Linked DNA regions of Homo sapiens. Changing the gene in region 1 together with any one later gene gives a genetic interaction. Each region holds a gene or a part of one and is shown in the gene's direction. Other genes may lie near its edges.

What was found. A genetic interaction does not mean that the proteins touch.
Region 2: of CTNNB1 (region 1) and GRIP1, changing one enhances a phenotype caused by changing the other (phenotypic enhancement), as found in Homo sapiens cells (one study listed by BioGRID).
Region 3: of CTNNB1 (region 1) and KCTD1, changing one suppresses a phenotype caused by changing the other (phenotypic suppression), as found in Homo sapiens cells (one study listed by BioGRID).

The regions. Positions count from the first base shown.
Region 1 is NC_000003.12:41,228,778-41,234,048, forward strand, and holds part of CTNNB1 (catenin beta-1), read left to right. Parts: intron 1-4,563; coding exon 4,564-4,667; intron 4,668-4,751; coding exon 4,752-5,090; intron 5,091-5,271. UniProt on the Homo sapiens protein: Key downstream component of the canonical Wnt signaling pathway.
Region 2 is NC_000012.12:66,458,192-66,462,576, reverse strand, and holds part of GRIP1 (glutamate receptor-interacting protein 1), read left to right. Parts: intron 1-4,385. UniProt on the Homo sapiens protein: May play a role as a localized scaffold for the assembly of a multiprotein signaling complex and as mediator of the trafficking of its binding partners at specific subcellular location in neurons.
Region 3 is NC_000018.10:26,537,669-26,542,053, reverse strand, and holds part of KCTD1 (BTB/POZ domain-containing protein KCTD1), read left to right. Parts: intron 1-4,385. UniProt on the Homo sapiens protein: May repress the transcriptional activity of AP-2 family members, including TFAP2A, TFAP2B and TFAP2C to various extent.

The DNA.
Region 1 (5,271 bases):
CTTCGTCATGAAATCTTTGCCAGGTCTTATGTCCAGAATGGTATTTCCTAGGTTATCTTGCAGAGTTTTTACAGTTTTAAGTTTTATATTTAAGTCTTTAATCCATTCTGAGTTGATTTTTGTACATCATGTAAGGATGGGGTGCAGTTTCAATCTTGGATGTGGCTAGCCAGTTATCCCAGCACCATTTATTGAATAGGGAGTCCTTTCCCCATTGCTTGTTTTTGTTTACTTGTTAGGTGTGCGGCCTAACTTCTGGGCTTTCTTTTCTGTTCCATTGGTCTCTGTGTCTGTTTGTATACCAGTACCATGCTGTGATTGTAACCTTGTATTAACAGTATAGCTTGAAGTTGGGTAAAGTGATTCCTCCAGTTTTGTTCTTTTTGCTTAGGATTGCCTTGGCTATTCAGGCTCTTTTTTGGGTTCATATGAATTTTTAAATAGTTTTTTTTTAATTATGTGAAGAATGCCATTGGTAGTTTGGTAGGAATAGCATTGAATCTGTGAATTGCTTTGGGCTGTATGGCCATTTTAACAATATTGATTCTTCCTGCCATGAAATAGAATGTTTTTTCATTTGTTGGTGTCATCTCTGATTTCTTTGAGCAGTGTTTTTTGTAATTCTCATTGTAGAGATCTTTCACCTCCCTGGTTAGTTGTATTCCTAGGTATTTTATTCTTTTTGTGGCTTTGGTAAATGGGATTGCATTCTTGATTTGGCTTGCAGCTTGGATGTTGTTGGTGTCTAGAAATGCTTCTGACTTTTGTACATTGATTTTTATATCCTGAAACTTTGCTGAAGTTTATTGGATCAAGGAGCTTTTGGGCAGAGATTATGGGGTTTTCTAGGTATAGAATCATATTGTTTGCAAACAGACTTCCTATTTGGATGCATTTTCTTTCTCTTGCCTGATTATGAGCAGTGTTTTGCCCTGATATTCTGTATTCTCAGTGAATAGATGTCGTCTAAGTATGAGAAACAATTTTTTTCTATTCTGAGTATTTTTAAGAAGGCAACTTATATGTGGTACTTTGTATATTGTGTATGTTGGCAATTGGGGAAAAGAATAGATGGTTTGTACTAGGGCCTCTTGGGTTCTGTGTGTGTGTGTGTGTGTGTGTGTGTGTGTCATGAAAACAGTTACTTTTTAGCTACCAAGCATTTTTTCTCCTTTCAGTAACCCACCTAACAACATTTACTCAGAATTTCAAAGCAAGCTTCAAATCAGTATTGAAAGAAGGAAAAATATAAAGGCATTTAATGGAAGAAAATGTTGGGAATAAAGTATAGGGCTGGCAACACTTACTTTTCTCACTTATTGAGAGTAATTTTACTTGGGAATTTATGAGAGAGAAAGACATTATGATTGCTCCAGGTAACTACTGGCAGAGGAACCATAGTCTTGGGGATAGACAAATGTGGCTGAGTTCATATAGAATGAGGGGATGGGATGTAAATTCTGTCAGCTGTTCCAGCAGTAACCTGTAATGTAGGCTAAAAATACAGATTTTGAGATTTATTTAATCAGAATCCCTGGAGTGTTAATTTTTATATCAAGATCTCATAGTGTTTTATTTGAAGTGACAGGGAGGTCTGTAGATAGCTGGACATGTATGGGACTGGAAGCTTAGGAATCTTTAAGTTCTTCCAGGTTATTCTTATGTTCATTTGTTTATTCTGAAAATAGCATCTAATGTATTTTAAGAAATGGAATAGGCACATAGTATACATTGGGTAACACAACAGATAGGGTCCCCGTGCTTAATTCTTAGTCTTGTGAAGGTGACAAAAATACTTAAAAATATGTGATCCTAAATTAGAATGAGTGTTATGGGAGAAATGACAGCAAATAGTGATGAGAATTAATGGGGAGGGGAATTGTCTAGATGAGAGGGAAAAGGTCTCCTTGAAAAGGGGATGTTAAGTGGGACTGCAGGATGAGAGGGAACCGTCTCTTGTCTATATGAGAAGTGAGGGTTAAACGTTTTCCAGGTAGAGAAAAGGAACACCATGTGCTATGTCTTAGAACCAGGGATATCCAGTCTTTTGGCTTCCCTGGGCCACATTGGAAGAAGAATAATTGTCTTGGGCTACACACCAAATACACTAATGATAGCTGATGAGCTAAAACAAAAAAAAATTGCAAAAGAATCTCATAATGTTTAAGAAAGTTTACGAATTTGTGTTGGGCTACATTCAGAGCTGTCCTAGGCCATGTGGCCCATGGGCTGCAGGTTGGACAAGCTTGCCTTAGAAGGAAAGAGATTGGTCAGGCACGGTGGCTCACGCCTGTAATTCCAGCACTTTGGGAGGCTGAGGTGGGCGGATCATGAGGTCAGGAGATCGAGACCAGCCTGGCTAACACAGTGAAACCCCATCTCTACTAAAAATACAAAAAGTTAGCCGGGCGTGGTGGCAGGCGCCTGTAGTCCCAGCTACTTGGGAGGCTGAGGCAGGAGAATGGTGTGAACCCGGGAGGCGGAGCTTGCAGTGAGCTGAGATAGCGCCACTGCACTTCAGCCTGGGCGACAGAGTGAGACTCTATCTCAAAAAAAAAAAAAAGGGAAAGAGATTGTGGAGATCCAGGTGCTGAAGAGAAGGTCTGCATAAACAGAACTTAGTAATGAGGTGGATGGCCTGGTATGAGGTTGAGGTTAGGTAAGCAGAGCCATAACATGCAGGACTTTCTAGGTTCCTATAAGATAGTTACTACTCATGGAGTTTATTCATGCTTTATTCCAGCTTTGGAGCCATAGATACAGAATACTTTGGTCAGTTTGGAAGGCTAGGTGGGATCCAAATTCTAAACGGTTCCTCAGGGTTATACTAAAGTATTTCTATTATCTTAAAAGGATGCTGAGACACTTTCGATGGTTGTTTATCAATAGCAAAGCATCACAGTGGTGTGTTTAAAATATTAATAATAGCATTGTATAGATTAACAGTTTGAATGACCAAAAGCTAGAAGACCAGACTACTGAGATGTTACAGGCTTTTAGGAATGAAATAGTTTGCTTTTAGAACTCAATAGCAAAGGGCAGATGTCTGAGATGCCTGAAAGAATCATAGAATGTAATAATATAGGAGCTAAGGGAGCAACCAAAAACGGTTTGTGGAGGGGACAACATTGGTACCATGAAGATAAATGGAACCCTCAGAAGGCATCCTTAATTTTTGAACATAATAATTTAAGAAGCTGACTTAAAGTGACTTAAAAGGTCAGTAGGTAGCTGGAAATGTATGATACTAGAATGCAAGAGAGGCAGGCTAGAGATTTGGAAGTTTCCCTCTTAGTATATAGGGGTAAGGGCAGCAGGGAAGGGGAGGTAGAGGTGCCACAGAGTCATCTGTATGGGACTTTTTTTTTTACCCTAGAACTGCTGAATCAGAATGTGTGTGTTTTAAAGTCTCTGTAGGCCATTCTGATGGACATCTGGGGTTAAAATCCATTCTCTTAGAGTTAATAGTTATGTAAAGGGAGGGAATGAAGTCTTAAAGAGGGGAAAGAAGGTAGTCATTTCACAAATACTGAGCATCCTGATCATCAGTCTTACGCAGATCATTCTATTAGTAGCTGGAGCTACTATGAAAAAGGAACCCAACAGAGGTGATCTTTGTCTTGTAGGGAAAGTGGAGTAACTTACACTATGAAGGAGAAGTGCAGGGTACCATAAGAATTACAGCAGATAGACCTCATCTGAGGAAATAAAACAGACCCGAAAGATGAAGGAGACAAGGAAAAGTATCTCTTACTGCATTCAGAAGTGATTTAAGTTGAAGATGGATGAGCGAAGTTAATCTACTATGTGGGCATTGGGCTTCCATTTATACTCCTTTGCCAGAGTAAATGTCCCCCATTTAAGGGTCCTAAAGGATGGAAGATTGTAAACCTTGGAACACATGTTTTGTAGTCAGTGAATTGTATAAAGTCCCTGACAGTAAGTGTTTTCATGCCGTCTTTCTGGATTGTTCTTACCCCAGGAATTTACCTAGCTTCTTTAGGTCTTTAGTCAGATGTCACCTTCACAGTGAGGTGACCTAATTATCTATTTAAAATCGCAGCCCCACTCCATTATTTTTCTCCATAGCCCTTTAATATCATCTGACATACTGTATGGTTTTAGTTTATTGTATATTTTTCTGCCTCTTCCAACTAGATCATAAATTCTGAGGGTAGGAACTTCTGAATATTTTTGTTCACTGGTCTATCTGCAGCTCAGAACAGGACCTGGTACTGAATAAATATTTTTGAAATGATTGAATGGATGAAAAGAAATGAGTAATAAGAATATTACCTAAGGGGGACAGTGGAGATAACAAAGGCTTTTTCGGCTTAGGAAAGGAACAGTAGCTATTTGAGAGTTTGTCACTAGTGAGGTGAACTGGCAAAGTGAAGGAAACTGAGCAACATTCTAGAAAATGAGAGGAAATCAAATACTTAGGTGAAAGGAAGTAAACTCTGGAAATACAGAAGGACACCTCCTAAGGCTAGAACAGATATTTAGGATTGATAGGCACTTCTAGCTAATGACTAGGGCCTTATATCCTTTTTAATTTTCTAGGTGGAATGCAAGCTTTAGGACTTCACCTGACAGATCCAAGTCAACGTCTTGTTCAGAACTGTCTTTGGACTCTCAGGAATCTTTCAGATGCTGCAACTAAACAGGTAAATTCTGAGTAAACTGGTGCCATGGGAATAGAGTCAAGATGAGTATGTGCTTGTACTGACCATCTGTTTTTATCTCCATAGGAAGGGATGGAAGGTCTCCTTGGGACTCTTGTTCAGCTTCTGGGTTCAGATGATATAAATGTGGTCACCTGTGCAGCTGGAATTCTTTCTAACCTCACTTGCAATAATTATAAGAACAAGATGATGGTCTGCCAAGTGGGTGGTATAGAGGCTCTTGTGCGTACTGTCCTTCGGGCTGGTGACAGGGAAGACATCACTGAGCCTGCCATCTGTGCTCTTCGTCATCTGACCAGCCGACACCAAGAAGCAGAGATGGCCCAGAATGCAGTTCGCCTTCACTATGGACTACCAGTTGTGGTTAAGCTCTTACACCCACCATCCCACTGGCCTCTGATAAAGGTAAATTGTCAAAGTAGAATTTACCTTTGTTGCAGAATTGAAAATGAAGCATCTCTAGCTGTTGGATGGCTGTCTAAGCATAGTGATCAATAAGTAGGAATTGTATTCCTTAGTAAGTAGGAAGTATGGCTGCGATAGGGGTAAGATTCTGAAATGTTTGTGTAGTCAGAACTACTTTTAG
Region 2 (4,385 bases), on another chromosome or scaffold:
TTGTTTACTCTAATTCATCTTCCAAAGTCTTTTTTCTAAGCCACACATAATTTGCTTGAAACCCTAACATCGAGGAAAAAATTTTCAGGCTAGTGCTATTTGATATTTTTTTCTTAAAAAAGTCTTTGGTGCAAATTGAATGTGCAGACAAGGAAAATAATTTGACTTCCTGGTATACATTTTGAATTTCCAGCCTAGATGAAGGCCAATGAAGGCAAATAGTAAAGCTCTCACTTAAAAATAAATAAGTAAAGTGGATTTTAATAGCAGAACCTTCAAATATTTGGCAGGAATCAGAGGGAACCAGTTATATGAAGCCTTGGTTTACAATATATTATGTCTTTTGCCAGTGGAGTTTTTTTCTTAGGATAGAGAACAACCTGTCTGAGCAAACATCTTGTCTGGGAGAATCAGAATATTTAACTCCATTTATTCAATAGAAAGTGTCAGCTGAAGGTATCTGTATTTTGACTCCCTTGAAATTCACAGATACATTTGCTGGGTGTTTATACCATCTACCTAGGCACCTTTAGGCAAAACCTGGTATGAGAAAGGGGTCTTTGAGCCCCAAATCAAATGAAGTCAAGTTTTCCAGTAGGATATTTGTTCCGACTCCCTCTCCTGCCCTATTCCTTAAAGCAAACACCATTCCTTTGTACTCCTTGAAATTAGAGGCCTCACTAGTATTGTCAGGGTGGCCTGAAGGAGGATAATGCATTTCTGTATATTTAGACACAGTGCAGTTTTCTCTGAAATTGAAATTTTGCTTATGAGGGGGTCATTTGTATTGTGTCTCCCACCTTTTAAAATGCACTACACTTCTCCACAGTCTGGGGCGGGGGGAAAGAGGGACCAGATAATTTTCATACTAAATCAGTCAGCTGGATGCAACCTTTTTAATTAAATGGAGCTTAGACAGCCCTGAAGCTAATGAAAATCTCTAGTACAACATTACCCTTATCAGATTTTAATTTTACACATTGGAGTAGAGAAATGATGCAGCATAGGCAGGTTATGAAAAGAAAATCAGCATCACAGTATTGGAATAGCAATGCAAACAGCTGTAGGAAGGTGCCGTTCACAAGGATGCACACCATTCCTATCAGGAGGCCCCGTGGGCCCTTCCTGCACTCTGGCAGAGAGGAGAGATTTCTGAAGCTGTTTAAGTTTCTTTAAATTAATCGGCAGTCATCATTGGATTTGGAGCACAGTAGCCATAAGAATGTACACTGTGTAGTGCTCTCTCAGCATGGGGTTTTGCTTGCTAAATTCTGGTATCAGCGAATCGGAAATGCATACCAGACCCTTTTAAAATGTTAGCATCTTTAGTAATCTCTTTTATTTTTCTTTAATTGGCCCTATATACAATTCATAAATAATTCAAGTGTTTTCAACTCATGGAATATTAAATTTTTTAACCTGCCAAGGCAATTTGAGTTTAATTTATACACTAAAATATATGGACTAAGCACAAATTTTTTGCCTTTATTGTGGAAAACCTGATGTCGTTTGTGTTGCAGGGATAGGAAACTGATAGGAAGTTTAAGTAATTCTAGCTTCCACTTCTGACTCCATCGTCTACGTTTACTGAAAGTTGTTCACTGTCTTTCTTATCAAGCAGGTGTTTCCGTTATATTGCACATTAAAATCAGACTTGGATTTCCAAGAGGAAATAAATTTTGGCTCCTAAACATAATTAAATCATAGTAAAGAAGAAAAACAAACAAAAAATTATTATTGTGTTTACAATTCTCAAATTTTTGACTAGTGGAGTTTTACATAGTTTTACCCTTTCTCCACAAGAAAGTTCTGATTGTTTTTTCAAGATCTCTGATGCCTGAACAGTGTGTCTCTCAACACACTTCCCAAATTTCCAGATTGTGTTAGCAGTAAAGCATATACCACAGAGTTTTCAGGCCAGTGTGGAAATGAATATCTCAACTTGGGATAAGAGATTAGCTATGCCTTTCACTGATAAATAGCAGCATTAAAGAAGCTGACAGAAATGAGTTTTCAGTGAGGTTAGAAATTTTTCCCACTGAGGGTTTTCAGGAGACATAATTGGATTGAAGGAAACTGACGTTTTGGAAAGGAAAATGTGACCAGAGTCACTAGACTCGACACATTCAGTACCAGGAGGACCTTCCATTTGAGAGCTCCAGGGCAACCTGGAACCACTGTGGTCTGCTCTCTCGAACATCCTGAACAGAGTAAGAGGCTGCAATTAGAGAAAGAAGAAAGAAAAGTAACTTCTGTGGCCATATATCTCTTGAGACTGCAGTAGTGACGTCACCATGGAATGATACAAGAACCATAATATTTTAAATGTGTTGTTTTCTTATCCATAACAAGGGACTTAGACATACCCATAGGAAGAGGCGGTATGTCTGGTGGTTGAAGCGGGGACTTTAGGATCACGTGTCCAGAGCTTCACCTCTGACTCCACCACGTGGGGTCTTAAGCAAGTTACCCAACTTTTCTATACCTCAGTTGCTTCATCTGTAAAATGGGGGTCATAATAATACTTGCCTCAAAGGAATATTGTGAACATTGTCTGAGCTAATCCATGAAAAAGCACCTAGCACAGTGCCTAGTATATAATAAGTAATCAGTGAAAGTAGGCTACAATTATTGGCTTTATTAAATGAGAGAATGTCTATAAGTGCTCTTTGCAAAATGACAGGACATGCCAAAAATGTAACATCTTATTATTAAACTTTGGAAATACTTGCCTATCAAGTACACCACTGTAAAACAGAAAACATTTGGAGTGTACATTCAAAATAGGCAGCAGCTCTCTTCTCTGGCCTACATTATTTGTTCAACACCTTTTGCATTCATCATCCATGGCATACAGTTTTGTGCATTATCTTATATCATTTTTGTCTCTTAATTATTTTATATGTATGAAGATTTAATCCCCAGTAGTAATTCAAAGTCAAGGTAAATGGTATGACCTTTAACCTGCCTGTAGCAATTGGCACAGTCTGAGAAAGCAATAGCTGGTAAATAATATCTTCCTTATTGACTTATTAATTGTGCTGTACAGTCCTAACAAATGCCCAGTAATTTTCAAAGCTCTCAATGAAGAAGCGGGTCAAAAGGTGGGTGTAGAATCCCGAAGTGCATTCACCGTACCCTGGCTTCATTTGAAACACAGATGGTACTTTGTGAAAAGTACGCTAAAGTGTCGGTGGTTGTAAATTGGCCAAACACAGTAATAACTGCGTCTTGCTGAAATGTCTTCTTGTACACCCAAAGTAGAATGAGGATGGTGAGAGAGAATCCATTAGGGACATCTCCTGCAATAAATACTCTTTTGTCTCAAGGAAAATGCTGCTGCAGTGTTCACATGGACACTCTGGCTGATATTCCCGTTCATTCATGCATTTGTTTATTCATTCATTCATGTATTAGTCATTATATACCAGGCACTGTTCTAGTTGCTAGGATATATTTAGTGAGCAAGACAGGCAAAGTATATCCCTACTCTTATAGAATTCACATTCTAGTACAGACAGACAAACATTAAAAATATATTAAATAAATAAAGCTGTTTCAGACAGCAATAAGTACCATGAAGAATGTAAAACAGTAATGAGATAGCATGGGGAGGGCAGCTCCTTCAGCCAGGGAGATCAGCAACAACTTCTCTGAGGAGGTGGCACCTCGGGTGAGACCTGAATGATGAGAAGGAGGCAGTCATACAAACAACTGGGGAAAGAACAGCAAGTGCAAAGGCCTTGAGGCAGGAAGGAACCTGACTTGTTCTAAGAGTAGACATAAGATCAGTGTGGCTAAAATATACAAATGATGGGTAGAGTGATATGGATGAAACTAGAGAGATAGGCAGGGGCTGCCTTTGATTCTCTTTGTAATAGTTAGCTATTCAGGCCCGGCGCAGTGGCTCATGCCTGTAATCCCAGCACTTTGGGAGGCCGAGGCAGGCGGATCACCTGAGGTCGGGAGTTTGAGACCAGCCTGGCTAACATGGCAAAACCCCATCTCTACCAAAAATACAAAAATTAGCTGGGCGTGGTGGTGGGCACCTATAATCCCAGCTACTGGGTAGGGTGAGGTGAGAGAATCACTTGAACCTGAGAGGCAGAGTTTGCAGTGAGCTGAGATTGCACCATTGCACTCCATCCTGAGTGACAAGAGTGAAACTCTGTCTCAAAAGAAAAAAAAAGTAACCTATTCAAACAGGAGTGGCATGATCTAACTTATATATTTAGAAGGCCACCCTAGCTATGTTGTGGAAGGTAGGTATGCAGGAGATGAGTTGGGAAGCCATGTCTGAAGGTGTTACAGTGGCCTAGATGAAGGAGGTGGCAGCTTGAAGTAGGAAAGTGGAGAGAGAGGGGGAATCCAAACCACAAACAGGG
Region 3 (4,385 bases), on another chromosome or scaffold:
GGCTGGGCAATTAGTGGATTTATGCCCTTAAAGCTGAAATAATTCTCTGCTTGCTACATGATCATCAGAGGGGAAACAGGTGAACTCTTAAAGTTTTGGGCCCTATAAAGTTCTTTTGGATTTTCAGATTTATGAAAACTGTTCCTTTGCCTACTCTTCTCTTTCAAGAGAAGATGGGTGCTGAATGGTTTTGAGTCTTTATGACAGCATGAGCTTCTAGATGGCCCAGAAATAAATGATCTTTTCAGCTGTTCGAGATACACTACAGCAAAGGGTATGGGTTGAGATTAAACCTGAATATGAGGTTGTGTTATCTAATGCCCATGACCATAAACTGGATGACAGACCCTGCAATGCCCACACTAGCACTACAGGAAGCTGAACCTAATGAGGCATGTTCTGGGTTTTCAGTGATACTCCAAATTCCTTTCAACACTTTCTTTACAGCCAGACTTCTTACCTTTTAGCTTATAGCATATAGCAACCTGACAGAGCCTTTTCTTTCTCCCTAAAAAAGATCCACTTACATATGACAGCAAACTTTCATTCATGACAGACAGGGTTTTTTTATTTGGCAGGGGTGGATATCATAAATTTTGCCCAAGCTTTGGGTAACAGAATTTTCAAAAATAACAGAGGTGGGAGCTATCTTACAGTATCGTAAGTGAAAAGTGTCTGCGTTTTCTTTGGAGTTTTTAATCATATGTGCTTTTAGGCAACTCCTGCATGTACGTAGTGTGCTTTGGGCTAGCTTTTAACATTTTCACCCCCAATGAGAATTTCCTTTCTCTGAAGACCCTCTCCATCCTGAGGTGTGTGATTCAGCTCCTCTTTCTCCAGGCAGGGACTTTGGTTGTGTTTAATCCTGTGGGCTGCAGGGCAGCAGGAAGATGGTGCAGGCCTCTAGTGATGAGTTCATTTATGTAACCCTGGATAGCTGAGGGAATTGGAGAGACCTGGAAGGAGAGGGCTGAGGATGGACTCAAGCTTCTTAGTGACCCCCACTCCACCAGCCCATTCTGCACCTCCAACCCTGCAGCACCATCTCCACCGGAAGATAGAGCCAATGCCACTTGAAAATGCTCTTCATAATCCAGACCTTTCCTGGGAGTATCTGGACTCATTCACACCCTGAATTACAGTTGACCATTGAACAACTCAGGGCTTAGGGACACCAACCCCCTGCAGTCAAAACACTGCTTTTAACAAATTTTTAACTTCACCAAAACTTAACTAATAGCTTGCTGTTGACCAGAAGCTTTGCCAATACCATAAACAGTTGATTAACACATATTTTGTGTGCTTTATGTATCATCTGTATTCTTACAATAAAGTAAGCTAGAGAAAAGAAAATGTTATCAAGAAAATCATAAGACAGAGAAAATATATTTACTATTCATTGAGTGGAAGTGGATGATCATAAAGGTCTCCTTGTCATCTTCAGGTTGAGTAGGAGGTGGGGGAAGAGGAGGGGTTGATCTTGCTGTTTGAGGGGTGGCAGAGGCAGAGGAGATAGAGGAGGTAGAAAGGGAAGCAGGACAGGCAGGCACACTTGGTGTGACTTTCATTGAAAAACACTCGCATATAAGTGAACCCGCACAGTTCAAACCCCTGTCATTCAAGGGTCAAGTGTACTGCTTTCCCCCGACTGGCAGTGAACCCTGGAAGGTTTTGATCCATTCTGGGAGGAAGGGGGGTAAAACGTGCTGCCCGAAGAGGCTGGCAGATTTAAGACAGCATTAGGTGCTAGGCCTCTAGGCAACAAGAGGAGGAGTTCAGAAAGGAATGCTAAGGGATGACAGAGACAGATGTTGCTTCCTTTGTGAGTAATTCAGTTGCCAAATTAAAATGTCAGGACTAGTTTGGGAGCTTGTGATCATGAATTTCTAGTTTTACTTCATGTCCCTAGTCCGGTTTAACCCAGTTCAGCCTAGTATCTCCCCATTCAATCCCCATCCTTTCTGTCTTAACACAAGAAAAAGGAAGCAATTATTTATAGCACCAGTTCCCATTTGGGCCCTTTCACTGTGTGCCAGGGACCAAACTAGTTAAGTACACTATCTATATTTTTTAAATTGAATTTCATATTTGTACATTTCTCTGCCTCACCCTCCATTTAGACAAAATGTTCATAGATAATATCTTCATATATATATATGTATATGTAAACTTGATATTTGAAAAAATCCTTCATTTTTATCATAATCTGAGAAATAAGTGTTGAGGATAAGTTTCTTGTGATTGTGGATTAATTCTGATATTTCAAGTTGCTATGGTTTTTGACATGCAGTTTTAAGGAACTTAACTTAGAAACATGAATTATTTCCACATTCCTGGCTGTTATGGGTCAGTGAGTGGACTGTTAGACCAGATCCAGGCAGGAGTAAATGGGGGAGCACTGTAGGGGCATAAGGCACGAGGCTCCCATCTTGTTGTACTGCAGACTGCAGAGACAAACTTGATTCATTCATTGGAGAGTTCTGATATAAACTGTCACAATCTCTAACTGGTTCTGTAGCTATGGAGTAGAATATAATCATTAACATTAATAATAATGAAGACATACTGAAAGCTTTAAAGTGGTCCACCAACCAGCAACATCTGCATTACTTGGGAGCTTGTGGGAAATGCAAAAATCCCGCCACTCTGTGCCCCTGAATCAGCCCCTGTGCTTGAAAAGACTCCTAGGCAGTGCATGTGCTCTGAACATCTTGAGCACTGGCCGATGTGGTCTCTCATTTAATCCTCATGCAGCCCTTCCAGGAATTATGGTTATTATTTTCATTTTATAAAGGAGGAAGCAAGCTAAGGGTCATAGATGTTGATTCACTTGTTTGAGCCCTAACAACTGGTAAGTAACTATGCTGGGATTTGAACCCAGCCTGTCAGATTCCACAGTATGTTCTTTCAAACCCATGGCCTGTTGATTGCAAAATTCATATCAACTGTTCAAATAAAAGAATCCAATAAAGAGAAGATGATAGAACATGAAATCACATTATTACCTGTGATGCTTTCTGGAACAACTAAAGAAGAGAGAACTTGTTAAAAGACAGCATCACAAAGCAGTGACATAAGTATGCAGAGACACAAAAAAGAATGTTTCCGGTGTGTGGCAGGCTTCCGTTTTGCTGTGTGGGGCCCCCAGCCTTTGCTGGGTCTGGGATTTGGAGCAACCTCATTTGAGAAACTATATCACATAGTGGTTAAGAACAGACTCCAGAGCCACATCCCCTGGAGCAAATCTCAGCTCTGCCCAGATCTCTGGGTGCCTCAGTTTCCTCCTCAGTCAAACGGGAATGATGATAACAATGATCTCACAGGAGCATGGGTGTTAAATGAGATACTGCTTGAAAAGTGCTTCAAATATGAGCACTATATGAATATTTGCTATCATTTTGTTAGTGCAGAATGCTTTACATTTGAACAAATGCAGATCTTTATCATAAAGTCCTAGCCCCAGCCTTCAGTTTGGCTCTTGGAAGTAGCTTGTCCAGGTGCTGCACCGGGGGCCCCTCTGTTGTTTCTTCTTTTGGGGCATCCATAGACTCTGGCCAGTAGCACTTTTGCAGGTCTTCTGGGAGATACGAAATCTCAGTGCAGGCTCTTGCACTCTGGCCTACCTGGGCCCTCTTCCCTCTCACAATTAACCTAAAAAAGCCCATCCGTGTGGATGCTTTACCTTAAGATTTGCATGTTCTGTGGCCCACGTGGGATTTAACTCCACACCTTCTTCTAACTTAGTTCTGCAGACCCTTCCTATTTCTCTTTACAGAGGCATGGAAATTTTCTTTTCTTTTTTTTTTAAGACGGAGTTTTGCTCTTGTTTCCCAGGCTGGAGTGCAGTGGTGCGATCTCGGCTCACTGCAGCCTCCGCCTCCTGGGTTCAAGCGATTCTTCTGCCTCAGCCTCCTGAGTAGCTGGGATTACAGACATGTGCCACCATGCCCGGCTAATTTTTGTATTTTTAGTAGAGACAGCGTTTCACCATGTTGGCCAGGCTGGTCTCAAACTCCTGACCTCAGGTGATCCACCCGCCTCAGCCTCCCAAAGTGCTGGGATTACAGGCATGAGCCACCATGCCCGGCCAGAAATTTTCTAGTGCTAAAAAATTAGCACTAGGATTTGGGCAGCCCACTGATGGGCATAATTGCTGCCCAGGCTACAGCACATTCACAGATGAAATGAGACAACAATGAACAGAATGAAATCAACAGTTTTTCAAAAGAGATTAAATTTTATTTGGAATGGCTTGAGATGAAGGGAGTGGTCATTATACTAGGATTCCTAAAATATTATGAAGGTCATTATAGCTATAATCTACATAAATCTCTTAATTTCAGTATTCTAGAAGTAGGGTCTATATTTGGCTAGAGCCTGTGTTA